Linked DNA regions of Homo sapiens: all the other regions are linked to region 1. Evidence: fine-mapped expression QTL. A gene starts in region 1. Each other region holds a variant in brackets. All regions are shown on one strand. Distances are from middle to middle.

What was found. PIP is the estimated chance that this variant, and not a neighbour inherited with it, causes the effect.
Region 2: its variant is fine-mapped to the expression of REEP5 in whole blood (INTERVAL, PIP above 0.99).
Region 3: its variant is fine-mapped to the expression of REEP5 in whole blood (INTERVAL, PIP above 0.99).
Region 4: its variant is fine-mapped to the expression of REEP5 in whole blood (INTERVAL, PIP above 0.99). The same link has a PIP of 0.9 or more in monocytes.

The regions. Positions count from the first base shown.
Region 1 is chr5:112,917,422-112,925,563 of GRCh38, reverse strand. It overlaps REEP5 (receptor accessory protein 5), which reads left to right and starts at 3,337. Exons shown (of 5, transcript NM_005669.5): 1 at 3,337-3,491; 2 at 4,308-4,401. The coding sequence starts at 3,374. It overlaps LOC105379123 (a long non-coding RNA gene), which reads right to left and starts at 3,177. Exons shown (of 3, transcript XR_948675.3): 1 at 1,908-3,177. RefSeq lists an enhancer at 1,815-1,934 and silencers at 3,067-3,336, 3,697-4,146.
Region 2 is chr5:112,995,461-113,003,460 of GRCh38, reverse strand. DCP2 (decapping mRNA 2) reads right to left here. Exons shown (of 11, transcript NM_152624.6): 5 at 2,225-2,377; 6 at 1,992-2,104; 7 at 1,787-1,894. Among named protein-coding and RNA genes, the nearest start is that of DCP2, 23 kb to the right of the region's middle. The variant T/G (reference allele first, on the strand shown) is at 3,294.
Region 3 is chr5:112,942,477-112,950,618 of GRCh38, reverse strand. No RefSeq gene overlaps it. Among named protein-coding and RNA genes, the nearest start is that of REEP5, 24 kb to the right of the region's middle. RefSeq lists a silencer at 1-100. The variant C/G (reference allele first, on the strand shown) is at 3,773.
Region 4 is chr5:112,889,734-112,897,875 of GRCh38, reverse strand. All of the region lies in intron 3 of REEP5 (receptor accessory protein 5), which reads left to right. It also overlaps a transcript of SRP19 not described here and the pseudogene ZRSR2P1. Among named protein-coding and RNA genes, the nearest start is that of REEP5, 28 kb to the left of the region's middle. RefSeq lists a silencer at 1,008-1,057 and an enhancer at 5,420-6,619. The variant A/G (reference allele first, on the strand shown) is at 4,404.

The DNA.
Region 1 (8,142 bases):
CTGAGGTGGAAGAATTGCCTGAACCTGGGAGGTGGAGGTTGCAGTGAGTGGAGATTGTGTCACTGCAGTCCAGCCTGGGTGACCCAGTGAGACCCTGTCTCTAAATAAATAAATAAAACAGAAATTTATTATCTCACAGCTCTGGAGGCTGGAAGTCCAAGATCAAGGTCTCAGCAGGATTGGTTCCTTGTGAGGGTTGTGAGGGAATGATCTGTTCCAGGACTTTCTTCTTGGCTTGTAGATGGCCATCTTCTCCCTGTGTTTCTTCACAGTCTTCCCTTTATATGCATCTGTCTCCGTCCAAATTTCACCCCCCCTTTTTTTTTTGAGACAGAGTCTCGCTCTGTTGCCCAGGCCGGAGTGCATTGGCTTGATCTCGGCTCACTGCAAGCTCTGCCTTCTGGGTTCACACCATTCTCCTGCCTCAGCCTCTTGAGTATCTGGGACAACAGGTGCACGCCACCACGCCCGGCTAATTTTTTGTATTTTTAGTAGAAATGGGGTTTCACCGTGTTAGCAAGGATAGTCTCGATCTCCTGACCTCGTAATCCACCTGCCTCGGCCTCCAAAGTGCTAGGATTACAGGTGTGAGCCACCGCGCCTGGCCAAATTTCCCATTTTATAAGGACAACAGTCACACTGGATTGAGGTCCACCCTAAGGAGTTCATTTGAATTTGACTACCTCTTTGAAGACCCTATTACCAAATAAGATCACACTCTGAGGTACTGTAGGTTAGGATTCCAACATGTCTTCTTTAGGGAGGTAGAATACAATTCAACCCATAATAGCAATGTAATATAGGGGTAAGAGCCTGATTCTGAATTCTAGCTCTGCCACTTATTGTGATATGGGAACTCACTATGTCTCATTTTTTTTTTCCTTAAATGAGGATGAAACAGGTAGCATCTTCCTCATGCAGCTGTGAGGATTAAATGAACTAGTCCACGTAACACTTGGAATACTGGGTGGTACAACACATGTTAGATATTCATTCATTCATTAATTCAACAAATAGTTATTGAACAACTACTAAGTGCCAGGCACTGTTCAATGTGCTTAAAATATTGAAGCAAATAAAATAAGCAAAAATGTCTACCCTCACGGAGCTCATAATCTAGTGAGGAAAGAAAGATAATTTAAAAATAGAACATGGTCTGGCATGGTGGTGGCTCATACCTGTAATCCCAGAACTTTGGGAGGCCAAGGTGGGCAGATCACAGAGTTCAAGACTGGCCTGGGTAACATAGTGAAACCCCATCTATACTAAAAACAGAAAAAATTAGCCGGACATGGTGGCACACGGCTATGGTCCCAGCTACTTGGGAGGCTGAGGTGGGAGGATGGCTTGAGCACAGCAGGAGGTCGAGGCTGCGGTGAGCTGTGACCACGCCTCTGTACTCCAGCCTGCGTGACAGAGTGAGACAGTCTCAAAAAAAAAAAAAAAAAAGTAGAACATAATGCCAGACAGTAATAAATTCTATGGAGAAAAATCAAGCTAGAGACCACTGGGGGTTGCAATTTGAGATTAGGGGTACCATTTGAACAAATATCTGAATAATGGAAGGGGACAGTTAAATGGTTAACTGGGGAAAGATACTTTCAGATAGAGGAGGGTTTCTGGACTGTCACATTATTGACATTTGGGGCTGGATAATTCTTTGTTGTGGGGGCTGTCCTGTGTGTTACAGGATGTTTAGCAGCACCCCTAGTCTCTAACCACTAGATGCTAGTTGCACTTGCCACCTCCTGCTCTCCTTGTGTGACAATCTGTTTCACAACGAAAGTATCTCTAGACATTGCTACTCCTCCCCCCAGGAGGAAGAAGGGGAGAGGAAGTGCTCCTGGTTGAGAACCACTGAAATAGAAGAAAAGTGAACGAACGCCCAGAGGCAGGAATGGGCTTACCTTGTCTGAGGCACAGCAAGGAGGGAGGCAGTAAGGGAAGACATCAGAAAGGGGAGGGATGAACCATGTCACCTGTGACCCTGATGCCCTCCTTCAGGCAGATAGGAAGTTGCTGGAGGGTTGAGAACAAAAACATAGCACAACTTGACGCACATTTTAAAACAGATTCTACTGTCTGCCACATTGAGAATTAACTGTAGGTGAAAAGACAGAAGTAGACAGCAGGTTGTTTCACTTGTTCACTGATTTGGCTGGGTGGTGGTAGGAACAGCTGAGAAAGCTGAGCTAAGAAGCTCTGAGGAAGAAAGGAGGAAGGAGAATTAGCATAAAAGGAAAAAGCTAGGCGTGGGCAAGATAACTTTTTGCAGAAGTGGAAGGCAGTAGGGTAATTAAGTAGATTTGAAAGCACAGAGGGGTTGTGTAGGACCAAGACAGAATGTTCGGGGCCAGTTGTGGGCAGGGCATTGAATGCTCTGCCAAGGAATGGGAGCTCTAGTCTGTTAGGATAATAATACGGAGCTTCGGACAAAAATTCTGCAGCAGTGTGCAGAATAGGAGTCAACAAGAGTAATTTTAGGAGTGTCTGGAAGTCATATGGGTGAGATAAGAGGAGCCTAGGTTTAGGTGGAGGAAGAGCATGGCCAACTCATTCTGAAGGAAGCAAAAATGAGCTCCTGCCCTAAGGCTTGGACCTTAGAATCTCCGTCTTCTTCAGAGTATTTTGACTGTAGGAAGTGCAGAGTATATTGGCTCCACAGAGAGAATTTGGACACTTGCCACAGTATCAGACACCAAGACAACGCAAGCCCACCATGAAAAGATTTAATGCAGTTTTTGCTTGGAAAAGGTGTACCCCAGGGAGGATGTGTTAGATTTCTTCAAGGGTCTTTACAAGGCAACGATTGTCTGTAGGTGAGAAAAACTGCCAAGTTAAGGCAAAGAGGGAGAAAGCAGGACTGCTTCCAAAGAGTTCTTTCACGATGCTCAAACATTTCAATTTTTTAGGTCAAAAATGCCTTAGGTTTAGCACAGCAATGTAGGTGCCAAACTCATCGCAGTGAATTGCAGGCGGGAGCAACAAGGACGCCTGCCTCCTTTCTGCCTGCTTTTTGCAATAGTCCGATTTGAGAAGGGGACCCACGAGAGACACAAAATGCACGCCCCCACGCCACATCCTTTTTACCCCGCAATGGGTTAAGACTGTCAACAGGCAGGCCACCTCGCAGCGTCCGCGGAGTTGCAGGCCCGCCCCCGCCAGGGTGTGGCGCTGTCCCCCTGGCGCTGGGCGGGGGAGGAGGGGCGCGCGGCGGCCGAGGAGGGGCGCGCGGCGGCCGGGCGGGGCGAGCGGAGGCGAGTGGAGGACGCGTAGACGCGCCGCGGTCCCCGCCTGCCGCTGCTCCGCCGCAGTCGCCGCTCCAGTCTATCCGGCACTAGGAACAGCCCCGAGCGGCGAGACGGTCCCCGCCATGTCTGCGGCCATGAGGGAGAGGTTCGACCGGTTCCTGCACGAGAAGAACTGCATGACTGACCTTCTGGCCAAGCTCGAGGCCAAAACCGGCGTGAACAGGAGCTTCATCGCTCTTGGTGGGTGGCCGGGGGTCGCCGCCGCTGGTAGGGCCACGGGAGCCGCCGCTGCCCCAGCTGCTGGGGAAGGAAGCAGGGAGAGGACTCGGGAAAGGTGGAGTCGGAGACAGACGGGACAAGCAGCATATTCAGGGATCAGGCTGGCCTCCCGGAAAGCGTGGGCATCGGAGGACCCCGCGGGGGCTGCCCAGGCTGAGGGTCGCGGGGCTGGAGGGCAGCTGCGGCGCCGGGCGCTGGCAGCTGGAAGGGCCAGCGCTGACGTATGTCTGCCCCGCGGCCCGGCGCCCTATTCCTGCTGTCCTGCGCGGTGGGCGCGGACGGCGGGGCCCCTGCGGGCGGGCGCGTTGACGGAGGTACCCGGTCCTACCCGACCCTCCGTGGAGCTCCGCCCGGAGAGGGCGCCTCTCGGGTGGGCGGGGGCTGCTACTGCAGCGTGTGCGGGAGTCCGGGCCTCTCGGGACGCTCCCCGCTGAGCGCAGCTTCCCAGGCTGGAGCGCTGCCCAGCAGGCCCTGCGAGAGGGCGGAAGCGGGTGCCTGGGACCGTCCCGGGCGCCGGGGGTTGCTGCGCAAAGCGCCGGGGCCCCCTGCGGGAGGTAGGAGAGGCACAATGGTGGGGCTGCCTGGTATCCCCAGACTTCAAGGCATAGCCCAGCGGACGCGCAGGCCCAGCTTTCGTGTGGTTTGTTTTTCTCGCTCCTTTAATCGAGTCGAGAGGAAAACTCCTACAACAGGCCCAGCCTCGCGGTGTGGGCGGCGGCTGTCCCGCGTGAACGGCTCTCATGCTGCCCGACCCACTTCTCTCCTTGTGGTCCCCAGGTGTCATCGGACTGGTGGCCTTGTACCTGGTGTTCGGTTATGGAGCCTCTCTCCTCTGCAACCTGATAGGATTTGGCTACCCAGCCTACATCTCGTAAGTGACACACCCTGCAGCCGTCCCCTTCCCTTCCTCCATTCCTCCCCGCAGGGCTGCTGCAGTAGACTGCACATCCGCAATTCCCGGGAGAAAAGTGAAAGCTCGGCGGGGAGGGATGAGGTTGGACATAAGGGGTGGGGATAGTATTCACCATTTTGGAACCTTAACTTAATCCCTATCTCTTGACGATTAGCCCAGAGGTATTTTCATTAGATTATCCTGGTGACCAGTGTCCCCTCTCTTTGGCACACTAACAGGAAAGCGCTACCACTCTGTCGTCCTCCCTTTACTGGTGGGAGGATCTCAGAAGGTACAGGGAGCTGAGCACTTCTGTCTAGTAATTATTTTAATGAGTATTTCACCATATATTTATGCACCTAGAGAGTAAAACCCTATCAATTAGGTCTTCCTTAATTCATAATTACGTTAATTGAGACAGTAGGGAGAATTTTCTCATTTTCTTTTATTTTGAAAAAGCCACATGTTACAGACAAACTTGGGAAATGCTTACCCTAGTGTAAAAACAAAAACCTTTAAAAATGCTCCATGATATAGCTCCTTGGTTATATAAGTGAGTCATTTATATAATTGAGCTACTTAAAAAATGAATTTTTACGATTAGGATCTGAATTTATTACCAAAGTTGTTTTTATTCTACAATGTGTTTATTTTTTTTAATTCTACGATTTTATTTTTCCATTCGTTCAAGTAGGAATTATTCCTCTCCAGAAATGAATTTTGTTTTGCTCTACAGTTCTTCCTAAGAAAGCCAGTGGTTTTTACCTTCATTCAGTTGGTCTCTGCTACTTTCTTCAACCATAGGGATAAAAATAAAGGAAGAAAAAATTTTCACCTAGGAGGCTAAGACACAGATAACACATTATTACAGCTTGTATCTGTCACTAGTTAGGCTAGAATTTAGTCTATGACTATAAGGGAAGAAACATGTTTTAGAAGTTAGTTCTGATTTGAGCAATTAAATTGCAGTTACCTAGTAGTTGTTACTGTGTTAGTCCGGTACAGACACTTAGTCATACTCCAGAAAGTCTAGCTACATATAGCCCTGAGGCCTACCCCGGGCTCTGCTTTATGGAGGAGACTCAAGGAAAAACGGGATTGTGTGCACAGAATAAAGCATACAGACCCCCGTGAGCAAATATTCAGGCGGTCGGTGTTACATTAGTCTAATCAAGTCTGTTCATTGCATAACCAATATGATTGTATAATTGTCCAAAAGAAAGAAAAAGTATTTGAAAATGGTGGTCTTTAGTAGCATCAAAATCCATGTTGCTTAAAGTGTGACCTGTGAACACTGTCTTAGTCTGCTTGGGCTGCTATAACAAAATACCTTAGACTGGATAATTTATAAACAATAGAAATTTATTGCTCACAGTTCTGGAGGCTGGGAAATCCAGGACCAAGGCACCAGCAGATTTGGTGTCCGGTGAGGGCTTGCTCCCTGCTTCAAAGATGGCATCTTCTCACTGCTTCCTCACATGGTAGAAGGGTCAACTGGCTCCCTCAAGCCTCTTTTATAAGGACACGAATCCCATGCATGAGGGCAGAGCTCTCATGCCTGTTTCTTTTCTTTTGAGACAGAGTCTCGCTCTATATTGCCCAGGCTGGAGTGCAGTGTCGTAATCTCAGTTCACTGCAACCGCCATCCCTGGCCGCCCCCACCCCCGCCAAATTCAAGCAATTCTCCTGCCTCAGCCTCCCTAGTAGCTGGGATTACAGGCGTGTGCCACCACGCCTGAGTAATTTTAGTATTTTTAGTAGAGATGCGGTTTTGCCATGTTAGCCAGGCTGATCTTGAACTCCTGACCTCAGGTGATCCACCTGTCTCAGCCTCCCAAAGTACTGGGATTACAGGCGTGAGCTACCACACCTGGCCAAGCCCTCATGTCTTAATTGCCTCCTAAAGGCACCACTATTTAATACTAATACATTGGGTATTAGGTCCCAACATATGGATGTTGGGGGAACACAACATTCAGACCATAGCAGTCACCTTCATTTTAACTATTCTCCATACCTCTTGTAACTCTTATGCTCCCTAGCCAGAGTTATTTTTTAAAATACAGGTTCATCTATTTAGCAAAAATCAAATGCCAGTCACATGTGTGGCACTGTGGTAGCACTTTAGATATGGCAAGAAATAAGGTAGTCATACTCTCTGTCCTTGTTGAATGAGCAGTCTACCCAGGCAAGAAATAGGCAAAGTAGTGACCGTGTGGTAAGCCCTCTAAAGTAAATAAACAGTTCTGGTAGAGAAGACCTGAGGAATGAGAAGGGGCCAGCCAAGAGCAGAGCCAGGGAGAGGGAGAAGAGTGTGTCAGGCCCTGAGGCAGCACACAGCTTAGCTCTGTGTGAGCAAAGAGTGGTGGGGGAGGCACCAGAGAGGTGCAGGTGCCAGCAGGTAGGGTCAGTGGTAGAAGTGTGCATTTCATTCCAGATGGTGGTAGGGAGTTTGCATTTTCTGATTGCCTTGGATGGGTTTTAAATAGGGGGTGACATGATACGATTTATATTTTAAGGTCACTTTGGCTGCTGTGACCTCTGTAAGGAGTTCGCGATCTTGCCAAACTATTGCCAGTAATTTACTTCCTTCCTTTCTCACCTTTCAGCCTTTCTCTTGCTGTTTCCTCTCCTTGGGCCATCACAAGAAGGGGAGTAGTGTCAGTATTGGGTCAAGAGACTGCAGGATGCAAAGATGAAATTGGGAAAAGCTCACTTGGCTTCCTAGCTTTTCTCCCTTTGGACTCCCTTTGGAAGTCTGTGAGTGAAGCTCAGGTGCACCTGGCTCCTGGTCAGGGTCTGCTGCACGTTGGAGCATGTAGATGGTTGAAGACTTGCCCAGTGCTCACTGGGGAGCAACCAGTACCTTATTGTATACCCCTCTTCCTACTGGTTGTTCTTTCCGTGTGCATAATTTCCCTTTGAGCTCTTTGAGAACAGGGTCTTTCATCTCTGACTTCTAGTTTCTAGAATTTTTGGCCATCTTATATAGGCAATTCGGAATCTAATTCCAGCCTTCCTTTCATCAAGAACTGTTGACATAATTACCTTAATCTCCTTACTTCCCTCTTTTACTGATAACAGGAGGCAGACTACTGGAAATGTTTATTATAAAGATAGACCTCCCCCCATTGCTAAGATATAATTTAGATACTTATAAATTGTACACTTTTAAAGTATGCAGTTCAGTGGCTAGTATGTTCAGAGTTGTGTAACCATCACCACTGTCTAATTCCAAAACATTTTTATCACCCCAAAGGGAAACCATCACCAATCACTCCCTATTCCTCCTACCCAGCCCCTGGAAACCACTAATCTGCATTCTGTTTCTATGAGTTTGCCTATTCTGAGCATTTCATGTAGACGGAATCATACAATATATGGCCTTTAATGTCTGGTGCAGCCCTGCTTCTAATGGGATTGCACAAATAAGAGTCCTCTGGAGGGTGTATGCTGTGCTGCACCCTCATATGTGAGTAAGTCCTCCTGGTGCAGTCCCTCCAGGGTGGGCGCTAGTGAGCCAGGGCCCTAGTCCTGTACTTGCTCCTTTGTACAAATGGAATTGTGAGGCAAACTCAGACTTTATCTTCTATTTAAGGAAAGGGGAAGGTTTGCTTTCTGTCCTACCCAGTAACTTTTTTGCTTAAAATTCTATAAAAATGTCTATTACTTTTCCTCTTTTTATTTCATATTTTCCTTAAGACTTGGGCTGCCACCTTC
Region 2 (8,000 bases), 78 kb before region 1:
GAGACTACAGACACACGCCACCATGCCCTGCTAATTTTTTGACCCTGCACAAGTCAGTTACAGACCACATCCTAGCTGAAAGATGATCTGAGAAAGTAAGCTACCCTCTAAAGTATAAAATTAAAGGGCACAAGATAATGAATGAGCAAATTAAGTAAAGATCCAGTCTCGAATTCTTCTGCAAAAGAATCTATTAAAATGTTGTACTAATGCAGGCTGAGCGCAGTAGCTCACACCTATACTCCCAGCACTTTGGGAGGCCAAGGAGGGTAGATCACTCAAGGTCAGGAATTAGTCAGCTTTTGACTAATATTACAATAACAGATTCTGAAAGACATCAGGGCATTTAGTCCAAGCTCCTGTCCTCAGAATATCCATCTAAAATGGAATGCTACTGATTTAAGAAATGCTTACTATAGAGGTGGTTTACTCCTATTTAATTTCTGAAGCTCTGTCATAAAAGCAAATCCAAATTACAGAAAATGTAAAAATCAACTCTCTCTAACATAGGCAACTTTGTAAACAAGGTGATTATGCTTAAAATATATATTATGTTTAAAAATACAACCTTATTTAACAAAGTTACTTTCCCAGCCTACTCTGTAACTGACTTGGATGCAATTAAGTTGTAAGCCAGAGGCCAGGCATGGTGGCTCACGCCCGTAATCTCAAAACTTTGGGAAGCTGAGGCAGGAGGATCACTGGAGCCCAAGAGTTCAACAGCAGCCTGGGCAGCATAGGGAGAGCCCCATCTCTACAAAAAATAAGAAAAAATTAGCCAGGCTTAGTGGCATCTGCCTGTGTTCCCAGTGACTCAGGAAACTAAGTGGGATGATTACTTGAGTCCAGGAGGTCAAGGCTGCGGTGAGCTGTGATCATGCCACGTACTCCAGCCTGGGCAACAGAGAGAGACCCTGCCTCAAAAACAAAAAACAAACAAAAAGTTCCAAGCAAGAAAATGTTCTTCACGGTTTATGTCCAGGTAGTAGTCACTCTTGATAATACACAATCTCTGACACAATTTTTTTTTTTTTTTTTGAGACCGAGTCTCACTCTGTCACCCAGGCTGGAGTACAGTGGCATGATCTTGGCCCACTGAAACCTCCGCCTCCCAGGTTTAAGCCATTCTCCTGCCTCAGCCTCCCGAGAAGCTGGGATTACAGGTGCCTGCCACCACGCCCAGCTAATTTTTGTACTTCTAGTAGAGATGGGGTTTCACCATGCTGACCAGGCTGGTCTTGAACTCATGATCTCAGGTGATCCACCTGCCTTGGCCTCCCAAAGTGCTGGAATTACAGGCGTGAGCCACTGTCCCTTGCTGGGAAATTTTTTTAAAAGCCCAAGTCTTCACTGTTCTATCTCCAATTTAACAAACTACATTAGCATCCTTCCTCTCCCCTACAAGAAAACAAACCTCAACATATCCTCCATCCAAACGTCTTTAGAAACTCAATTATCTTAAAAGTAGGATATGACAACAGAGAAGTAACACTAAGAACACACGACACAAGATTTTTTTTCCTTTCCTAGTGTTCTATCTAAAAAGTTGGTATCCTCTTGAGTATACTATTTTAAAAGGTGCCTGAAGCTCCTTTCCAACTCCAATTAACCTTTTTCATCTCATCAGAAACCCTTTAAAAAAATCTTCTATTATCTGTGAGACCAGTAACAAAGAGTATCTATAAAAAGAAATCTTACATCCTCTGCAAATTTTAGAAGCAAAATACTATTATTCCACTTTTAAAAACTATTAGAAAATCAGGATTCCATGAATGTATTTCTTTACCTCAATTTTTCCACAGTGGGTTTAGCCGGCGTGCTACCAGTTGAGGAAAATCCATTGTCACTGTCTGAGGAATCGCCAAATCTTCGAGAAAGCCAGTCCCTTAATGGTCTGCAGAAACATTAAGAATTCACTTTCAAAATATGGCTACAGACAGAAGATGACTATCCCAATCATGAAAGTTACATTTCAAGAAATATGAACACACCTGATAAAGGGAATGGCCATAAAAAATTTGTTAGGTGCCAAACCAAGTTTGGATTTGGGGGTCATATCATTTCTATGACAAGGCAATTTCTCAATAGAGAACCACTCAATGTTCTGAAACACAGAAGAAAATAATTCATTTAGTTAATTTTTATCAAGGAGCTTATAAAAGGATTTCCCTACTTATTCATTTGGGATACTGTCCAGTAACCTGAAAATACTCTTGTTACATACCCGAATTTCTCTTCTAGTTTTTGGGTTAAATTTTGTGTCTTTTGGAATTCCTGGAATGATGTACAAACGAGCAAGCTGGTCATTGATTCGAAGTTCAATGTAATCATCCTTACAAATATAGTCTTTGATATCAAAACCAGTTTCTTCAAAGACCTGGAAACAACAAATTTGGATGAAATTTTCATTTTAGTTCTTAGGCCTCTAGTTCATTAAAATTTATTCCCAAGACAAAAACTCAGAAAAAGGGGACATGACTTGTATTTACTATTTCTAGAAATGACAGGCTGGTACAGAAATGCATATGAGATGTAAAAAAAGTTCTTGTGCCCTATTGTTTCTAATACTGTATCCACAGGTGGTATGGTATATAGAGAACCAGTCCACTGTAGACCTGATTGCTGACATTCAAACACACACAAACTATATATCTTTCCCAGAATAAAATTCTGAAGGCTAGTGATAGAGGTTTCAAGATTTCCCACTCTCCAAATCTTAACATTTATATACAGAAGGTAAGGTAATTAAATCATCAATGATGTGGAACTGACTCATGCAAGCTGTCTGAGCATTCCAATCAGAGTAAAAGTCCAGATGCTTTGGTTTTCCTTTCCTTCGAAACTAAGGTCTAATCTACTGCTTGAGATAGAGCTTAATAATGTTTTTGATTAATAAATTAATCTCGATGGCTTGGATTTATAATTTTAACAATTAAGGCTGGTTTACTTAAAAGTTTACCTATCAATATGTGCAACTGTCTTCAAAGACACCATTAAGATCAAGAATATATTAAAAACTCAGGTAGGGTGTGTGGGTGTGTGTGTGTGTGTGTGTGTGTGTATTAGACAAGTAATTGCACTTCAAAAAAATAGGACTGGGCACAGTGGCTCACACCTGCAATCTCAGTACTTTGGGAGGCCACAGAGGGAGGATCACTTGAGCCCAGGTGTTCGAGACCAGTAATTGCACTTCAAAAAAACAGGACTGGGCACAGTGGCTCACACCTGCAATCTCAGTACTTTGGGAGGCCAAAGAGGGAGGATCACTTGAGCCCAGGTGTTCGAGACCATTC[T/G]AGGCAACAGTGGGACTCCATCTATACAAAAAAATGTAGATAAAAATTAGCCTGGCATGGTGGTATACCCCTGTTTTTCTTCTTCTTTTTTTTTTTTTTTTTTTTTGAGATGGAGTTTCGCTCTTGTTGCCCGGGCTGGAGTGCAATGGTGGGCTCCTGGCTCAGTGCAACCTCTGCCTCCCAGTTTCAAGCAATTCTCCTGCCTCAGCCTCCTGAGCAGCTGGGATTACAGCTGCCTGTCACCATGCCCAGCTAATTTTTGTATTTTTAGTAGAGACAGGGTTTCACCATGTTGGCCAGGCTGGTCTCAAACTCCTGACCTCAGGTGATCCACCCGCCTTGGCCTCCCAAAGTGCTAGGATTATAGGTATGAGCCACCATGCCCGGCCGCACGCCTGTTTTTCTAGTTACTCAGTAGGCTGGGGTGAGAGGATCACTTGATCAAAGGAGTTCCAGGCTACAGTGAACCGTGATCACCATCCCAGTGCACTCCAGTCTAGATGACAGAGCAAGACCCTGTCTTTAAAAAAAAAAAAAAAAAGGCTGGGTGCGATGGCTCACGCCTGTAATCCCAGCACTAAGGGGAGGCCAAGGCAGGCTAATCACCAGGTCAGGAGTTAGAGACCAGCCTGACCAACATGGAGAAACTCCGTCTCTACTAAAAATACAAAATTAGCCAGGCGGGGTGGCGCATGCCTGTAATCCCAGCTACTCGGAAGGCTGAGACAGGAGAATCACTTGAACCCCAGGAAATGGAGGTTGCAGTGAGCCGAGATCATGCTATTACACTCCAGCCTGGGCAACAAGAGCGAAACTCCATCTCAAAAAAAAAACAACAGAAAAAGGTTTAAAAAGTAATTTTTATATGTTTCTTAATTCTAGTTTTATAGTTATTTTCTTTAGCTCTGCTCTTTGAATAATGCCTCAAAAATCAGAAATAAGTATACATAGCTAGTCATATGAATCTGCATAATTGGAAATTATGCTAAAAGTAAATTGTATAATCTGAATTCCTCGTGGGCAGAGCCTGTTATCTTTGTGTTACCAACAGTATCTAACTAGATGCTTAATAAAAGAAAGTACTGAAGAAAAAGTAAGGAAGAGTTTCAGATTAAAGGAGACTGAAGAGACGTGTCAATTAAATGCAAATGCAGCAAGTAAGCATGGATTGGATCCTGGGTAGGCAAATGGGTGGGAACTGCTGAATCATAATGGGCAATTAGTGAATGTGAATATGAACTGTCCATTAGATAACAAACAGCACCATATCAATGTTACATTCCTGAATTTGAGAATTTCACTGTGATTGCCCTAAAAGAACTCCTCGTTCTTAAAACATACATGCAGAAGCAATTAAGGACAAAGGGGCATTACGTTTGCAATTTACTCTTAAATAATTCAGCAATAATAAAAAACTCTGCACACACATTTATCGAAAGTAATATAGCAACTATGGTGTAACATTAAAGTCTATTCTTTGAATTAATCTATTCTTCTCTACATACGACACTATCTCATCCTCAATGTAATTTTTATGGGGTCACGTAGCTATGTTTAGTTCTTAGTGCTTTCACTCAACTATGTACTTTGTGCTTAGTAAATGACAGGCACTGTTCTAGGCAGTGAATTTAGTAATGAATAACGCAAGCAGCACCCTTTAAGGAGTTCAGTCTACAACAGAAAAAATTTTAATATGATATAAGTATTATGAGGTAGGAGGAGAGTGCCCAACTCAGCCTTTAGTAGACGTCTTTGAGAGTTGGGGGATGGTCTTCTTTGGTTATGGACAGCAGCCTATTCTGCTGGATAAACTGGAGCTAGGACTTAAAAGATAAATAGGAGTTTGCCAAACCAACAAGAAGAAAAAAGGCCTTCTGTTTAGATAGCCAGGAATGGCTACAGCTTAAGAATTACAAGGGAGGAAGTAGTACAATATGAGGCAAAACAGCAAGGGCCACCAGCACTAAAAGAGGTAGATTCAAACTGTCCAATCAATTCTAAAAGTGATAAAACAGATTTGCCTGTAAAATTAGGCAAGTATTCTCATCAAATATTTGCCAGGAAAAAGTTATAATAGTTGAAATATATAAACAGACACCAAAGACAAAAATTTTTATACCACACCTCCTGTGAATCAAATCTATTGCTGTATTATAATATAGCGTTTAATTCTCCTAGCAGAAGGAGTATCAACTTCTCAAATGTTAGCAGATAAAAATCCACAAATAAAATTTTTTTTAAAGTGTTACCCAAAGGGCCAGGCTCGGTGGCTCACACCTGTAATCCCAGCACTTTGGGAGGCCAAGGCTGGTGGATCACGAGGTCAGGAGTTCAAGACCAGCCTGGCCAACATAGTGAAACCCCATCTCTACTAAAAATACAAAAATTAGCCAAACATGGTGGCGTGCGCCTGTAATCCCAGGTACTCGGGATGCTGAGACAGGAGAATCACTTGAACCCGGGAGGCGGAGGTTGGGGTGCAGTGAACTGAGATCGCACCACTGCACTCCAGCCTGGGTGACAGAACAAGACTCCGTCTCAAAAAAAAAAAAAAGAAAAAGAAAAAGAAAAAGTGTAACCCAAAGAGCAGCAGTGTACAAAGACAATGAAATCCTGTCTATAATCTTCATCCTATAAGCCTACAGGAAGAGGCAGAATAAACTGACCAATAGTTGCTTTGTATTAATTCTATTAAATTATATAAGTGCACATGAAAGTCAGTTTCATTACACTAAAACACTGCTTTGCCAAATAATAAGGAACGATATATTAAATCTTGAAACCACAAGTGAACAGCTAAGTATTATTCGCTTATTCTCAAGAAAGTTGATGTTTCACCACAAATCACAACAAAAATACAATTGAGATTATTATGCCTTCGACAATATCTAGAAAACATCTTTGTCCTGTTAAATAGAACTTATAGGAGGCCACGGTATGGACTGCATTCCCACACTAGGCCCCAACAGACCTAAACAAAATGGAATTACTCATGCTAACATTCCATGTCACCAAACCAAAACTAAGTTGTTCTCCTAACCTTCAAGATATGTGGAGAAAAAGAGCTAATAGCCAAATCCCAAAACAGACCAGTTTCAGTTAGCATGATAAGGAAGTCCCCTCTGCTTTAACCTTTAGAAGAAAACTAACTTTGAAACGCCAATGTACATTTGGTTTTTGGTTCTGCTTTCCTCAGCTCTTTTCTGTCTTTAAAGCCTACCTCCTTTGCTCAGCCATTGGAATGCTCATTTTATTTTATGGAATAAAATGTTGCATAATTCTAAAATTGCAAATAAACCCATTGCAATCTTTAAATTTGTTGTGATTTTGTCTTTTGACAGTCCTAAATCTATTTCACTGAATAAACTATCCAGAAATAGTCAAATTAACAAAGGTGAGCCAAAAGGTCAAATAGAAGATTGGAAATTACTAATTAAGATTGCCCCCAAAAAAAAGGTCTGCTAAAAAGAGGTCTGTTCTTAGCTCTCTATTGATAATTACTTACACCTTCTCCCTAAGTAGCTTGTCTGCCACTGCTGCTTTAGGCTTAGCCCACAGACCCTTCCCTGTTTGAGGATGTGTCAAATTCTGCTACAGTGTAACAAAACACCTCTGGAATGCCAATTATACTAAAATAACAACATTAATATAACTGTATGAATGCCATAATAAGCTAAATAAAAATGCTATTAGCAACTTAAAATTGTAAGCACCCATGGTAGAACTTAAATGTATGTAACTTAAATGCAAGAAAAAAAAAGTGCTCAAAACATCAGCCTAAGTCTAATCAGTAGCTAGAAAATTAGAACAAAATCTCTCCTCATCTGTTAATACAAGTGGAAATGAAAAGGAAAAACGAGGCATTAATAAACTATGAAGAATGGAATAACCATCTGGTTTACAACTGGTAATGTCACTCGGTCAAGCCGTGCAGCTTCTTTTATACCGCAGCACCACCAAGTGGCAGAAGGACAAACTGCAATTCTAGCTGAATACTTTCATCATTCAAAAAAGGCCACTGCTATGGACTAAATTATGTCCCCTCACCAAAAAAATTCATATGTTGAAGCTCAACCCCCCATGTAACTGTATTTGGAGATAGGGCTGTGAGGAAGTAATAAAGGTCAAATGAGATCCATAAGGGCAGGGCCCTAATCTGACAGGGCTGGTGCCATTTTTACAAGAGGAAGAGACACCAGATCTCTCTCTGCATGTACACAAGAAGGGTATAAGTGTGCTCAGCAAGGTGTTAATCTATAAGTCACCTTGCTCTTGGACTTCCCAGCGTCTAGAACCGTTGCAAAATAAATTTGTTTAAGCCACTCCATCTGTGATATTTTGTTATGGTAGCCCTCACAGACTAAAACAGCAACACTTCACCCTAATCCCAAACTTTACGACAAAGTCGGTCATTTAAAAATCAAAAGTCAAACTTGCCTTTAAAAATCCTAATCCAAAAATTTACTGAAATTAAAGTTCCTTAGTCAGCTATAAAAGGACATCATAGAGATCAAAAAGAATGTTTAGAGGTTAGAATTTTTATTATGAAAACGAAAAAATTCTCCCTGAAATTAAGAGACTACGGCTCTTCAGGATGCCTGTGCTTCCCTCAAACCAAGACAAAAACCTAAAATGGAACTGTTTTGTTATTCCAACCAATGTAATATCCTCTTCCTGACCTGGACAACCACCTTACTGCCGTTAGAC
Region 3 (8,142 bases), 25 kb before region 1:
TTTGCACATTTGTATGAGCATCTACAGTACAAATTCCAAGAAGTGAACTTGCAAAAGCAAAAGAAATGTGCATCTAAACTTTAGATAGATCTGGCTGGGTGTGGTGGCTTACACCTGTAATCCTAGCACTTTGGGAGGCCAGGGCCGAAGGATCCCTTGAGCCCAGGAGTTCGAGACCAGCCTGGGCAACATAGGGAGACTCTGTCTCTATTTAAAAAAAAAAAAAATCAATCAATAAAGTTTAGATAGATCAAGGCTGACATTTTCGGTTATCTTCAAGCGAACAGAGGAAGCCACACAACAAAGACAAGGAATTGACACAGAAAAAGAAAGGGAAGAAAGAGATGGGAAAGCCAGAGAGAACAGACTTCAAGCCTGACGTTCCATTTTACGGACCCTCTGAATCCTGACTGTCCATGTCTACTAAACCTCAACATGTGTTTAGTAAATTCTTGTTTTCACTTTTGTACATCTGAATGGGTATAGCTCCTTGCCATAAGTTATATCAGATTCTGAGGGGAGAGAAAGAAGGATGGAATGATCTTTACTCCAATTTAGGTTTCCAACCTAGTAAAGAGTTGGGGCAGAGAAAGAACCAAGCACTGAGTTACCCAATCCCAAGGTTCCCCACTGGACCAATATTTAATGGGTTGAGTTGCTTTTAAATCCAGTACAATGGTTGACAGAAGTGCATATTCCTCAGATATGGAACAAGAACATAACTCAAGGAAAGTCTTACTTTTAAATTCCATCTCTGCACCAGGGTAAATTCTTATTTTTAAAAACCCAGCTCGGATTTCACTCACTTCATGATCCTTTATCAACTGCTACCAGAGCCCACCCTGATCTCCAACTTTTCTAAATTCTCATAACACATAGCATACAAGGTAGACCACACATGGTTTTATTGTTCTCTGTTGGTCTTACCTCTAGGATTGGAGTGCAGTGGCGCAATCATGGCTCACTGCAGCCTCAAGCAATCCTCCCATCTTAGCCTCCCGAGTAGCTGGGACTACAGGTATGTGTCACCACGTCCAGCTAATTTTTGTATTTTTTATAGAGATGAGGTTTTGCCATGTTGCCCAGGCTGGTCTCAAACTCCTGAGCTCAAGCAGTCCTCCTGCCTCAGCCTCCCAAAGTGCTGGGATTGCAGGCATGAGCCACCATGCCCAGCCTGGGATTAGATTTTAAATTCTTTGAGAATAAGGAAAATGTCTTATATTTATTTTGAATTTCCTACAGTACCTTGCAGAGATAATATTCAATAAAGGTGCAATTGTTGACTGATTAATTCTACCTAAGTCATGCAAACCTGGCTTGACTTGAATGTATTTATAAATGAAAAACAAAGTGAAGGACAATTCAGCTAAAATCAACATGTGGTCCTGACACTTCAGCTATTACACTAAATCAGAGTGTTCAGTATAGAAAATAACCCAAATCTAAAGCTGTTAGATCAATTATTTGTATATAACTTTATTTATTGTTTTGTTTTGAGACAGAGTCTTGCTCTGTCACCCAGGCTGGAGTGTGGTGGCACAATCTCGGCTCAATGCAACCTCAGCCTCCTGGGTTCAAGCAATTCTCCTGTCTCAGCCTCCCGAGTAGCTGGGATTACAGGCACATGCCACCATGCCCAACTAATTTTTGTATTTTTAGTAGAGACAGGGTTTTGCCATGTTGGCCAGGCTGGTCTCAAACTCCTGACCTCAGGTGGTCCACCGGCCTCAGCCTCCCAAACTGCTGGGATTACAGGCAGAAGCCACCATGCCTGGCCTATTTGTATATAACTTTAAAAGGAGTAGAAGGTTGTTTGGAGAGTTATAATCACATTCAAAGTACACTTTTTTTCTTGAAAAAAATAACAGATTTTTTTGAAAAGTAAATGATGTAATTGAACTCACAAATTACTTCATGCTGTTTTTTCATTTCTATTGTATTCACATGTGATAGCATCAATTGTTGCTACATCAGAGATATGAAATATTTTATTAGGTCAGCATTATTTAAGACCTTTAGAACAGTAAGGACATTAAAATGTAAGTTGCATAATGTTTATAAGTGTTTAACTTATAATATTGAGTGACGCATGAGTTAAGTGTTCAGAGTAATTTTCTGCATTATCATAAAAGAAAACCATTTTTAATTTTAGTTAAAATTAAATTAAAATTAATTTAGTATATTATTTTACTGATTGTAATTTTATGTAATAAAATACAGCACATAAAAAAAATTTTTAGTGTTATCATTACATTCTGCAGTCTCTCTTTTCTCATCACATTATATATTTGTAGTTTATCTCATATTTATACATTACTCTACATCATTTAACTGCTATTTAGAATTTCATTTTAGTAAATCCACTTTCCTGTTGATGGACATGTTAGTTACTTCCAGTTGTTTCCCAGGTTTGAAAATAACGCTGCAAGGAATGTTCCTGTTCATATCTACTTATGCACACACATGCAAGTTTCTCTAGGGTATAGACTTACAAGTAGAATTGCTGAGAACGCATATCTCCAACTTTGATAATGCCAAAGAGCTCTCCAAAAACAGTTATAACAATTTAGACTTCCACAAGTAATACATGAGAGTTCCATCTCCCCATGTCCTTGCTTGATTAATGTTAATATAGTCTGTCACGGTGCAGAGGCTTCAGCAACCCAGATCCTGCCCTGCCCACTGTATTGCTTATGGGGATCAGTACCTTGTGGCCCATCAGGTGGCAAGCTCTGTTCTATTTCTTTTATATCAATTCAATCTAGCTTACTAATTTTATTTCTTTCAGCCAGCTTGATCTATTCGTTAGAGGAGGGTTAACATCTTCTTCATTGATTGAGATTTGGTTCATCATCCTTCTAATTCTATCATTTTCCCTTTTATTTATTTTACAACTATGGTTCTTTATTCCTATCTCTTCTGATAAATTCTTTTAAATTTTTTTATATTTAATTCTTGTGGTTATATAGTAGATGTACATATTTATGGTATACATGAGATATTTCGATACAAACACGCAACGTGTAATCATCACATCATGGAGAATGGGGTATCCATCCCCTCAAGTATTTATCCTTTGTGTTATAAACAATCCAGTTATACTTTTAGTTATTAAATTTTTAAATGTACAATTAATTTATTATTGACTATAGTCACCTGGTTGTGCTATCAAATACTAAGTCTTATTCATTCTTTCTATTTTTTTGACCCATTAACTATCCCCACCTCCTCCCAACCAACTACCTTCCCAGCCTATGGTAACCATTCTTCTACCCTCTTTCTCCATGAGTTCAATTGTTTTTATTTTTATTTTTACGTATGCATTTTTGTGTGTGTGTGTGACGGAGTCTCATTGTCACCCAGGCTGGAGTGCAGTGGCATAATCTCAGCTCACTGCAACCTCTGCCTTCCAGGTTCAAGTGATTCTCCTGCCTCAGCCTCCTGAGCAACTGGGACTACAGGCACCTGCCACAATGCCTGGCTAATTTTTGTATTTTTAGTAGAGATGGGGCTTCACCATGTTGGCCAGGCTGGTCTTGAACTCCTGACCTCAAGTGATCGGCCCACCTCAGCCTCCCAAGGTGCTGGGATTACAGGTGTGAACCACCGCGCCTGGTCCAATTGTTTTGATTTTTAGATCCCACAGATAAGTGAGAACATGTGACATTTGTCTTTCTGTGCCTGGCTTATTTCTCTTAACATAACATCCTCCAGTTCCATCTATGTTGTTGCAAATACAGGATCTCACCCCTTTTTATAGCCGAATAGTACT[C/G]CATTGTGTATATGTACCACATTTTCTTTATCCATTCATCTGTTGATGGACACTTAGGTTGCTTCCACATCTTGGCTATTGTGAACAGAGCTGCAACAAACATGGGAATGCAGATATCTCTTTGATATACTGATTTCCTTTCCTTTGGTTATATACCCAGCAGTGGGATTGCTAGATCATATGGTAGCTCTATTTTTAGTTTTTTGAGGAACCTCCATAGCGGGGGTACTAATTTACATTCCCACTAACAGTGTACAAAGGTTTCCTTTTCTTTACATCCTCTCCAGCATTTGGTTATTGCCTCTCTTTTGGATAAAAGCCATTTTAACATAGGTGAGATAATATCTCATTGTAGTTTCGATTTGCATTTCTCTGATGATCAGTGATGTTGAGCACCTTTTCACATACTTATTTGTCATTTGTATGTCTTCTTAGGAGAAATATCTATTCAAATATTTTGCCCATTTTTAAACAGAATTATTAGATTTTTCCCTACAGAGTTGTTTGAGCTCCTTCTATATTCTGGTTATTAACCCCATGTCACATGGGTAGTTGGCAAATATTTTCTCCCATTTTGTAGGTTGGCTCTTCACTTTGTTGATTGTTTCCTTTGCTGTGCAGAAGCGTTTTAACTTGAAGGGATCCCATTTGTCCATTTTCGCTTTGGTTGCCTGTGCTTGTGAGGTATTACTCAAGAAATTTTTGCCCATACCAATATCCTGGAGAGTTTTCCCAATGTTTTCTTGCAGTAGTTTCATAGTTTGAGATCTCAGATTTTTCTTTAATCCATTTTTATTTGATTTTTGTATATGGCAAAAGATGGGCGTTTAGTTTTGTTCTTCCATGTATAGACATCCAGTTTTCCCAGCACCATTTATTGAAGAGACTGCCTTTTCTCCAGTGTATGTTCTTGGCACCTTTGTCAAAAATGACTTCACTGTAGGCTTGTGGATTTGCTTCTGGGTTTTTTACTTTGTTCGAGTGGTCTGTCTGTTTTTATGCAAATACCATGCTGTTTTGGTTACTATCCAGTATAATTTGAAGCCAGATAATGTGATTCCTCCAGTTTTATTCTTTTTGCTCAGGATTGCTTTGGCTATTCTAGGTCTTTTGCGGTTTCATATACATTTTGGAATTCCTTTTTCTGTTTTTTTGAAAAATGTCACTGGTATTTTGATAGGGATTGCATTGAAACTGTAGATTGCTCTGAGTAGTGTGAACATTTTAACACTACTGACTCTCCTAATCCGTGAACATGAAATATCTTTTCATTTTTTGGTATCCTCTTCAGTTCTTTCATGAGCATTTTATAGTTTTCATAATAGAAATCTTTCATTTCTTTGGTTAATTCCTTGGTACTTAATTCTGTTTGTGGCCATTGTACATGGGATTACTTTTTTATTTCTTTTTCAGACTGTTCACTGTTGGCATATAGAAATGCTGATTGTTGTATATTGTTTTTTTTTATTCTGCAACTTTACTGAATTCGTCTGTCAATTGTAATACTTTTTTGGTGCATTTTTTAAGGCTTTTACAAATATAAGGTCAGATTATCTGGAAATAAGTATAATTTGAATTCTTCCTTTCCAGTTTGGATGACCTTTATTTCTTTCTCTTGTTTTATTGCTCTAGCTAGAACTTCTAGTATTATGCTGAATAACAGTAGTGAAAGTGGAGATCCTTGTCTTGTTCCAGATATTAGAGGAAAGGCTTTTCATTTTGCCCTGTTCAGTATGATACTAGCTGTGGGTCCATCATACATGGCTTTTATTGTGTTGAAGTATGTTATTTCTATACCGAGTTTTTTGAGGGTTTTATCATGAAGGGATGTTGAATTTTACAAAATGCTTTTTCAGAATCAATTGAAATGATTAGGCCAGGTGCGGTGGCTCATGCCTATAATCCCAGAACTTTGGGAGGCTGAGGCAGGCAGATCATTTGAGGCCAGGAGCTCAAGACCAGCCTGACCAACATGGTGAAACCCTGACTCTACTAAAAATACAGACTTCAGGCCGGGCGTGGTGGCTTACGCCTGCAATCCCAGCACTTTGGGAGGCTGAGGCGGGAGAATCACTTGAGGTCAGGAGTTCAAGATCAATCTGGCCAACATGAGGAAATCCCATCTCTGCTAAAAATACAAAAATTAGCTGGCTGTGGTGGTGGGCACCTGTAATCCAAGCTACTCAGGAGGCTGAGGCAGGGGAATGGCTTAAACCCAGGAGGTGGAGGTTGCGGTGAACAGAGATTGTGCTACTGCACTCCAGCCTGGGCGACAGAGTGAGACGCCATCTCAAAACAAACAAACAAAACAAACAAGCAGACAAAAACAGCCTTCAAGGCCGGGCGCTGTGGCTCAAGCCTGTAATCCCAGCACTTTGGGAGGACAAGTCGGGCGGATCACAAGGTCAGGAGATCGAGACCATCCTGGCTAACACGGTTAAATCCCGTCTCTACTAAAAATACAAAAAATTAGCCAGGCGTGGTGGCGGGCGCCTGTAGTCCCAGCTGCTCGGGAGGCTAAGGCAGGAGAATGGTGTGAACCTGGGAGGCGGAGCTTGCAGTGAGCTGAGATCCGCCATTGCACTCCAGACTCCATCTCAAAACAAAACAAAACAAACAAACAAAAAAAACAGCCTTCAGGGCAGTAGGCTCCCCTCTAGCCCAGGGTGGGTCCAGAAATGCAGTCCAAGAGCCTAGGCCTGGACTCAGGGACTCTAAGAGCCTTCTTATTTGCTCTACACCCACTGTGGCCAAGATCGTACCTAAGGTGCAAGACAAAGTCCCCTTTACTTTTCCCTCTGCTTTTCTCAAACAGGAGTTTCTTCCTGTAGCCACCACAGCTGGGGATGTGCTGGTTCATACTAAGTTATTCTTTCTTTCTTTTTCTTTTTTTTTTTTTTTTTTGAGACAAACTCTCACTTTGCCCCCTAGGCTGGAGTGCAGTGGCTTGATCACAGCTCACTGCAACCTCTGCATCCTGGGCTCAAACAATCCTCCCACTTCAGCCTCTAAAGTAGCTGGGATTACAGGCACCCGCCACCACGTCTGGCTAATTTTTGTACTTTTTGTAGAGATGGGGTTTTGTCATGTTGCCCAGGCTGGTCTCCAACTCCTGAACTCTAGTAATCCGATCACCTCAGGCTTCCAAAGTGCTAGGATTACAGGTACGAGTCACCACGCCTGACTTAAATTATTCTATCATTAAAAAGTTTTCATTTTTACCCCAAATGAAGCTTTTCATCTTAAATTTTATTCGTGACTCATGCCTGTAATCCCAGCGCTTTGGGAGGCTGAATTGGGGGGATCACTTGAGGTCATGAGTTTGAGACCAGCCTGGCCAACATGGCAAAAACCCATCTCTACTAAAAATACAAAAATTAGCCAGGTGTGATGGCGGGTGCCTGTAATCCCAACTACTTTGGAGGCTGAGGCATGAGAATCGCTTTAGCCTGGGAGGCAGACGTTGCAGTGAGCCGAGATCGTGCCACTGCACTCCAGCCTGGGTGACAGAGCGAGACTCTGTCTCAAAAAAAAATAATAATAATAATAATTCTATTCATTTGCTGTTAATTCCATTATGTTATTAGCATTTCTGCGTACTCTTTTTTTTATTAGTATTTGATTGTTATATTTTTCTTTACTTTTATCTTGAAATTTCTGGATGGTTTTAAGTGGGCTCCTTGAACTATTTACACTATTGTTTGCTTGCTTGTTAATCAAATGAGATGATTTTTATCTATTAGTAAATGAATTCTATCTAATAAACTTATATAGTCAGTCATCCTGGTATATTTAAATTTATTTTTACCATCTAATTTAGGTCTTTGCTTTACTACCCTTTTTCTTTTTTTCTTTTTCTCTTTTTATTCCTGTTGCTTCTTTGGGACTGATGAAATTTTCTATATTCTTCTTTCCTTCTTTGTTGGTTTTAAGGCTATGCATAGCATTTCTATTTTTTTTAACATGAATATCTCTACATTTTTCCTATAAAGTCTCCAATTACATACACAGTGTTTTTTCCTTCTCCTGAACAAGACACAAACCTAAACAAGCTTTAATTACCTAGTAAGTACTTCCACATTATTGTTTTTATTTTTAATTTATTTTTTTGAGGTGGAGTTTCACTCTTGTCGCCCAGGCTGGAGTGCAATGGCGCAATCTCAGCTCACTGCAACCTCCACCTCCCGGTTCAAGCAATTCTCCTGCCTCAGCCTCCTGAGTATCTGGAATTACAGGCATATGCCATCACGCCCAGCTAATTTATATATTTTTAGTAGAGACGGGGTTTTGCCATGTCTGCCAGACTAGTCTCGAACTCCTGGCCTCAGATGATCTGCCCGCCTTGGCCTCCCTAAGTGCTGCGATTACAG
Region 4 (8,142 bases), 28 kb after region 1:
TGTTTGCCAGGCTGGTCTCAAACTCCTGACCTCAAGTGATCTGCCCGCCTCGGCCTCTCAAAATGCTGGGATTACAGGTGTGAGCCACTGCTCCCAGCCCGAGGACATGTTTAATATTTTATTTTTTGCAGAGTTAATATTGTTGGCTTTATTTTCATTTTTCTAAAGCAGCTGATAAGATTGGAGGAAAATAAAAGGAGCCAATGGCTTGGCATCAAAGCTTAGTTGAGAAGATAATATATGATGTATTTAGGTAGAAATTGGATCATGCATATTCTGAGCTTTGCTCTGACATCTGGCCTTGAGCAAGAGGGTTTAAAAATAAATTTAAAAGCTTTTTTTCTTGATTATGAAATTTACATATGCTCATTCCTTTATTCAGCAGATTTATTTAGAACCTCCATGTGCCAGATTCTGTTCTACATCTGGGAGATACTTTGGCGAATAAAACAAAGTCCTTGTTGTCCTACTGTTTACATTTGTGTGTGTGTGTGTGTGTGTGTGTGTGTGTGTGTGTGTGTGTGATGGGATGTGTTTTATGTAGGGAGGAAAATAACATTTGTAATCCTACATCTTAGAGTAGTCTTCCTATTTTTTAAAATGTGCAAATATATTGGTCTGTGTATATAAATAAAAACAGAACTCTGTGTGTATGTGTATATATATATGTATGTATTGCTGTCTTAACATATGTGTGGCTTAGATCACATATGATATATAATTCTGTGTCTTGCTTTTTTCAATTAACACAGTATTCTGAGTATTTTCTCATGTTATTCAGTATTTTTTGACATAGCTATCTAATGTTATTGATAATTTACCTACTTCCCAATTGAAAGACATTGAGGACATTTGTCATGCGATTATACATAATGCTGCAATTAATATCTTTGTATCCTCTGTTTACCTTCATTTAAATCATTTTCTAGATTTACTTTACTTTTTTTGAGACGGAGTCTTGCTCTGTCGCCCAGGCTGGAGTGCAGTGGCGTGACCTCTGCTCACTGTAACCTCTTTCCCAGGTTCAAGTGATTCTCCTGTCTCAGCCTCCCGAGTAGCTGGGACTACAGGTGCACAACCACGCCCGGCTAATTTTTGTATTTTTAGTAGAGACGGGGTTTCACCATGTTGGCCAGGCTGGTCTCAACTCCTGACCTTGTGATCCACCCACCTCAGCCTCCCGAAGTGCTGCAATTACAGGCGTGAGCCACCAGGCCTGGCTAGATTTATTTTTAGAACAAGGTTGAGTAAACTCTGGCAAGATTAGGTCCTGACCTGAATTGTCACCTGTGCTATTTCACCCATTGACAGAGAATATAACATTTTTCTTTTCTTTTTTCTTTTTTTTGAGATGGAGTTTCGCTATTTCACTCAGGCTGGAGTGGAGTGAAGTGGCGTGATCTCTGCTCACTGCAACCTGTACTTCCCGCATTCAAGCAATTCTCCTGCCTCAGCCTCCCAAGTAGCTGGGATTACAGGTGCCCACCACCACGCTAGGCAAATTTTGTATTTTTAGTAGAGATGGGGTTTCACCATGTTGGCCAGGCTGGTCTCAAACTCCTGACCTCAGGTGATCCTCTTGGACACCTCAGCCTCCCAGAGTGCTAGGATTACAGGCGTAAGCCACTGTGCCTCGCAACATTTTTCTTCTTAATGTTCGTAGGAGGCTAAAAAGACAGGGAAATCTTTCCTTTAACACGTTCTTTTAAGCTTTTATTTGTGCATGCTGAGCAATGTAGCCTGTAACTATTCTGTGGCTACACTGCAAAAGCTTTCTTCTGACATTAACTCTCAGTTCCGTAACTGCATGTTAAGCATACCCCTACCTGGGAAATATCTCTTCTGGGGGAAAATCACATGGTGACAGCATTAGAAGCACAGACGGAATAGAATGGCCTGTTGTAATTCGTAATTTAAGGAGTCATTGTGTCAGTGCTAATAGTGCCAAGAGTCCAGTTAAAATAGCATGGACTCTGTCTGAACTGCAGGCAGCAGTGGGCTTGTGAGTCTCCTTGGGAGTATCATCAGCTGGCACTTTGAGGGCAGCTTGATTGAAAAGAGCCAGATCTGTGTGGGTGACTTTAATAAACTCAGGCTATTCCTGGGCTGTAGAATAGTTACACAGATTAAGAAGAGAGGGTTGTAAGAGGTGGCAGCTGAATATCACCTTGGGAGTTGAACAGTAATTAACTTTATTTTTAACATAAGAAAATGATTTCATTTCAGAACAGGAAAATGCTAAGGATGTAGCTAGAGAGCAGTAATTATTTTACTGTCTCAAGACAATAGCTAGAGGGTACCAGAAAGTAGTCAATTAACAGTCTGCAGTCTAGCCTACAAAGTAATCACATTGAAGAGGTACAAAACTGTGGACACTTAATTCATCCAGAAAAGATAATAAGCTTGTCTGGATTGCTGAAGGGTTGGCATCTACATAGGCAGGTAATATTTCAGAGATTTTCCACAATAAGAACTTTAGGATTTGGTAATACTACTATTCTATTGTACACTTTCTTCAAGTACATTAATTTGTGACTTTCCTAAAACTCTGCAGAAGAGAAAACTGTCTCTTAGGTTGATTTGCCTAAAGTCATAAAACACACCCCACCTCTCCTGATTTTTTTTTTTTTTTTTTTTTGAGACAGAGTCTCGCTCTGTCGCCAGGCTGGAGTGCAGTGGCGCAATCTCAGCTCACTGTAACCTCCGCCTCCTGGGTTCCAGTGATTCTCCTGCCTCAGCCTCCTGAGTGGCTGGGACTACGGGTGCCCACCACAATGCCCGGCTATTTTTTTTCTAATTTTAGTAGAGACAGGGTTTCACCATGTTGGCCAGGATGGTCTCGAACTCCTGACCTCGTGATCCACCTGCCTCGGCCTCCTAAAGTGCTGGGATTACAGGCGTAAGCCACTGCGCCCAGCCCCACCTCTCCTGATTCTTAATCCAATGAGTCATTTTCACTTCACCTTAATGCTCTGGTTTTAATATGGACATCTGTCTCTCTCTTGATAATCCATTTCTGAAAATCAGATATTCTATGTAGGAATACATTCTATGCAGAAGCTTATTTTCCACTATTTTAAGTGGGAAAAATTTTAATGTATTACATGTCAATGTAAAACTCAACGAATTCACTAAGTATTAATAAAATACAGCAAAATACCTATATATAACAAATATCATGTTAGGATGTTAGATGCTAAAAACACTTGCTGCTCTCCAAATAGTTAATATAGTAAGTAACAATTGCTCTGTGTGCAGGAATACATAGCACATCCCCTGTGATGCTCTGCATATTCTTCAAAATGTCCACCAAGGATTCTGATATTCTGTCAAAAATGTTACTCAAGACATTTCCTGCATATCATAATGTTGTATTGCATTTTGGGGATGTATAGCTTTTCCTATATAAGCAACTACAGTAAAACATTGTATGAATTTTGGATATTAAAAACCAAAAGGCAGCAGGGTGCAGTGGCTCACGCCTATAATCCTAAGCACATTAGGAGGCCAAGGTGGGCAGATCACGAGGTCAGATCAAGACCATCCTGGCCAACATGGTGAAACCCTGTCTCTACTAAAATACAAAAAATTAGCTGGGCACGGTGGCATGCGCCTGTAGTACCAGCTACTCGAGAGGTTGAGGCAGGGGAATCACTTGAATCTGGGAGGCGGAGGTTGCAGTGAGCTGATCACGCCACTGCACTCCCGCCTGGCAACAGAGCAAGACTCCGTCTCAAAAAAAAAAAAAAAACAAAAAAAACCAAAAAAACAAAACCAACCAAAAGGCTTCCACAGGGAAATAACTAGAGAGGTGGTCTTGCAGGGTCTGCTGTAATTAACTGGCACTATGCCAAGGAAACAAAGCTAATGCCAGTGAAAAATACAGTCATTTAATTCTCCATTTTGGGTCAATGCAAATGCGTATCTCAAAAAAACCAAGGTTCTGAACCTCTGGCAACATCTTATAATTCAGTAAGATCTGCTGCTGGCTAAACTTAGGGCATGCTAGAGCAGAGTTGCTGGGAAAACTAAGAGTAACATCGAACTACTTGCACATACTGAGGGTACCTCAAGGCGCTGGCTTCCTTGGAGTGCTTGGACCTTTAACAGAAGGTCTTAGTCTACCATTGTGTGTGTGCAGAAGGCTGATTTGAGTTTTTGCATGATTGCACATTCATGCACGTAGCATTACTATCCATGTGTAGCGAGACTACTAGATGCTAGTCTGAGTCTTTACCTTTCCATCATCTACTGTCATGCTTTCCCAAGTCTGAAGATCCTGTTTTCCAAGATCTGTGCTCAGTAAACAAGCTTTGGAGTCTTTAAATGTAAGGAATAGGAAAGGTGAAGAGAGGCCTGGCTTAAAATCATAACATGGAGATTATGGCAGTGAATCCCATTGG[A/G]TTGAATGGTCTGATATGGAAAGCAGGCTGTGTAGTTCCACTAGTCCAAAAATTCTATTTTTTGAGACACAGTCTCGCTCTGTCACCCAGGCTGGAGTGAAGTGGCATGATGTCGACTCACTGCAACCTCCGCCTTCCAGATTCAAGCGATTCTCCTGCCTCAGCTTCCCAAGTAGCTTGGATTACAGACGCCTGCCACCACACCTGGCTAATTTTTGTATTTTTAGTAGAAATGGGGTTTTGCCATGTTGGCCAGGCTGGCCTCAAACTCCTGACCTCAAGTGATCCACCCACCTCAGCCTCCTAAAGTGCTGGGATTACAGGTGTGAGCCACTATACCTGGCCTGGTCCATTCTTTTTTTTTTTTTTTTTTTTTTTAAGAACAAAACTAGTTTATTTGGATTGGGGACTCTGAACAGTTCTGTCTCTATTACCCGACTTCCTCCTCCCACGACTTCGGCACCTAGAGGAACTTTGGCTCCGGCTGCGGTGGCTCCTGCGGCTCTGGCTCCGGCGGCCCTGGTCCCAGCTGCGGTGCCTATTTCTTCCTCTGCTTGGTGAATTGTGCCTCTCCCGACTCTTTGATGTGCGTTTGTGAGATTTCTTCCCCCTATGACTACTCTTTTTTCTCTCGGATTCCCCATTTCTTTTGTAGGTGTGGTCTGGACTAGGGTTTCTCCTTCCCCGCTGCCTGCTGTAGTAGTGGTCGTGGTGGCCCATCTTCTCCCTCCTCTCGGAGTTCTTGCCAAAGGAGGAGCCAGTCTGATCTGAAGACAAGTAGATGTCTCTATTAGCTTCCCAGAATTCATTGTTGGGATTTCTGAACACATGAAGAAAGTTGCAGTGTTTTCCTCTTGGACATTGTTGTATTTCAAATAAACCACAAATCGCCATTTTCCACCGGGTCACTGGGCAGAATTCACATTGCAGCTGTCGTCCTGCATACCATCGTCCGTTAAACAGAGAAAGGGCTGCTTGGCATTCTTCTTCCGACTGGTACTGAACATATACATTGCCCCTCAGGTGAGGTTCCAAATTGCAGCTGACCTTGAACTGAATCACTTTCCCCACGTTCTTGAACTCGGGCAACACATCCTCATAGAAATCTAGGAACTGTTGGTAGGTTTCTTCCTCGCTGTACTCCAGGCTTGCGTCAGGGTCATAGTCATCCCTCCTGCACTGCTCCATTCCAAACGTTGTAAACATGCTCTTAATAAGAAGGGTAGGACTAGATGTTGGGAAATTATGTTTACGTGAACATCTGTCTCCAAATCTGCAAGCTCCTGTTTTACTGTAGAAGGGACAATTAGCTCGATCCTTCTCCATTACTCTGAAATCCACGGGTGGTTCTGGGTTTTGCCATGTGGTACTATTTTCTAAATCATTTTCAGCCTGATCCAGCATCTTCTGCACAGCTTCCTCTTTTTCTTTCTTCTCCTGTTGTTTCTGCTCCTCCTCTTCTCTCTCTTTCCTCTGCTGTTCTTTCCATTGTTCCTTTAACTTTCTCTCTTGTTCTTCTAGCCATTTTTTAGCCGCCTCTTCCTTTTCCTTCTTTATTCTGAATTCTTCTTGTGCCTTCTGCTCCCTCAGCAACCACTCCTCATGTAATCTTTCCCTCTCTCTTTCCAATAGCTTCTCTTCTTCTAGTTGTTGTTCTTCAATAAAAGTGTCCTCTTCCTCCTCCTGTGAGAGTCCTGAGTCTCTCAGTCGAGCAAGTTCCTGCCGACGTTTCTTTCGTTTCTCCTTCTTCAGGGCGGCCCTGTACTTTTTGTGGCTTGGTTTCTCTGGAAATGTCATCTTCTTGGGAAACGTCATCTTCTCAAGTGCAGCCATCTTGCCAGCACCGCCTGACCCCTCAGACATTCTTAACCTATGGGAATATATGGAAGATTTTGTTCATAGCTGCCACTGTCAGTGATTCTACTTATGAATATTTTATGTTTTCTAGTATTGTTTTGTTTGCATACTTATATATATTACAAATTACTTTCATTTTGTTTCTCCTTTATATTGCAGTTAGACTTTTTTTGTAATTAAGTATATCATAAATTTGAATTTCATTTCATGTACTAAAAGGAGAGTTCTAAAATATTTACTTATGGCCAGGTGCGGTGGCTCACTCCTGTAATCCCAGCACTTTAGGAGGCCGAAATGGGCGGATCACCTGAGGCCAGGAGTTTGAGACCAGCCTGGCCAACATGGCAAAAACTCATCTCTACTAAAAATAAAAAAATTAGCCAGGCTTGGTAGCACGTGCCTGTAATCCCAGCTACTTGGGAGGCTGAGGCAGGAGAACTGCTTGAACCCAGGAGGCAGAGGTTGCAGTGAGCCAAGACTGTGCCACTACACTCCAGCCTGGGTGACAGAGTGAGACTCTGTCTCAAAAATAAAAAATAAAAATAAATATTTGCTTAAATATTTTTGGTTCTAGGATTTGCTTTCCCCTACTGAAAGCTAACATGTTCTCCTGTTAGTAATGTTTCATAGATGTTGTTAGAAAACACAGTATTCTTGGGTCAGAGAAAGTCCTTGCTATGCTTAGTAATTTTATTTTCTTACAAAATTATAGGGGTAAATTTTAAAATTTTCAATTAATACCTATTTTATAGAGGAAAAACCAGACTTAAGTGATTAAGTAACTTGTATAAGGTTTGCTTAGCTAGTAAATGGCAGAACCAGGATTGGAAGTTAGTTTCTTTGAGTCCATCCTGTTACTCTCTATATACTATATTAACTCTTTGAATCCCTCTTTGTTGGGTTGAGAGATCTGTATATATCTTTAGAGTGAGATTTTAGGCCAGGTGCAGTGGCTCACACCTGTAATCCCAGCACTTTAGGAGGCTGAGATGGGTGGATCACTTGAGGTCAGGAGTTCGAGACCAGCCCGGCCAACATGGCGAAACCCCATCTCTACAAAAAGTACAAAAATTAGCCAGACGTGATGGTGCGTGCCTGCATGCCTGTGGTCTTCAGCTACCTGGGGGGCTGAGGCGGGAGAATCACTTGAGCCCAGGAAGTTGAGGCTATAGTGTTTTGTATTTGTGCCACTGCACTCCTGCCTGGGTGACAAAGTGAAACCCTTTTTTATTTAAAAAAAAAAAAAGACTTAAATTTTGTGTTCTTTATTCTGTATTCTTACTAATTTCTAGGTTGTTTTATATATCAACTTTTTTTTGTCTTTTTGAGACAGGGTCTTGCTGTCTCACCAAGCCTGGATTGCAGTGATGGTATCACAGCTCACTGCAGTCTCGACCTCCCAAGGTCAAGCCACCCTCCCACCTCAACCTCCCAGGAGGACCACAGGCATACATCACCAAGCCTGGCTAATTTTAAATTTATTTTTTGTGGCCGGGTGCGGTGGCTCACGCCTGTAATCCCAGCACTTTGGGAGGCCGATGGGGGTGGATCATTTGAGGTCAGGAGTTCAAGACCAGCCTGGCCAACATGGTGAAACCCCGTCTCTACTAAAAATACAAAAATTAGCTGGGCATGGTGGTGTTTGCCTGCAGTCCCAGCTACTTGGGAGGCTGAGACAGGAGAATCGCTTGAATCCGGGAGGCGGAGGTTGCAGTGAGCTGATATTGTGCCACAGCACTCCAGCCTGGGTAAGAGAGCAAGAATCAGTCTCAAAAAAAAAAAAAAATTTTTTTTTTCCTAGAGATGTGGTCTCCCTATGTTACACAGGCTAGTCTCAAAACTCTTGGGCTCATGTGATCCTCCAACCTCAGCCTCCCAAAGT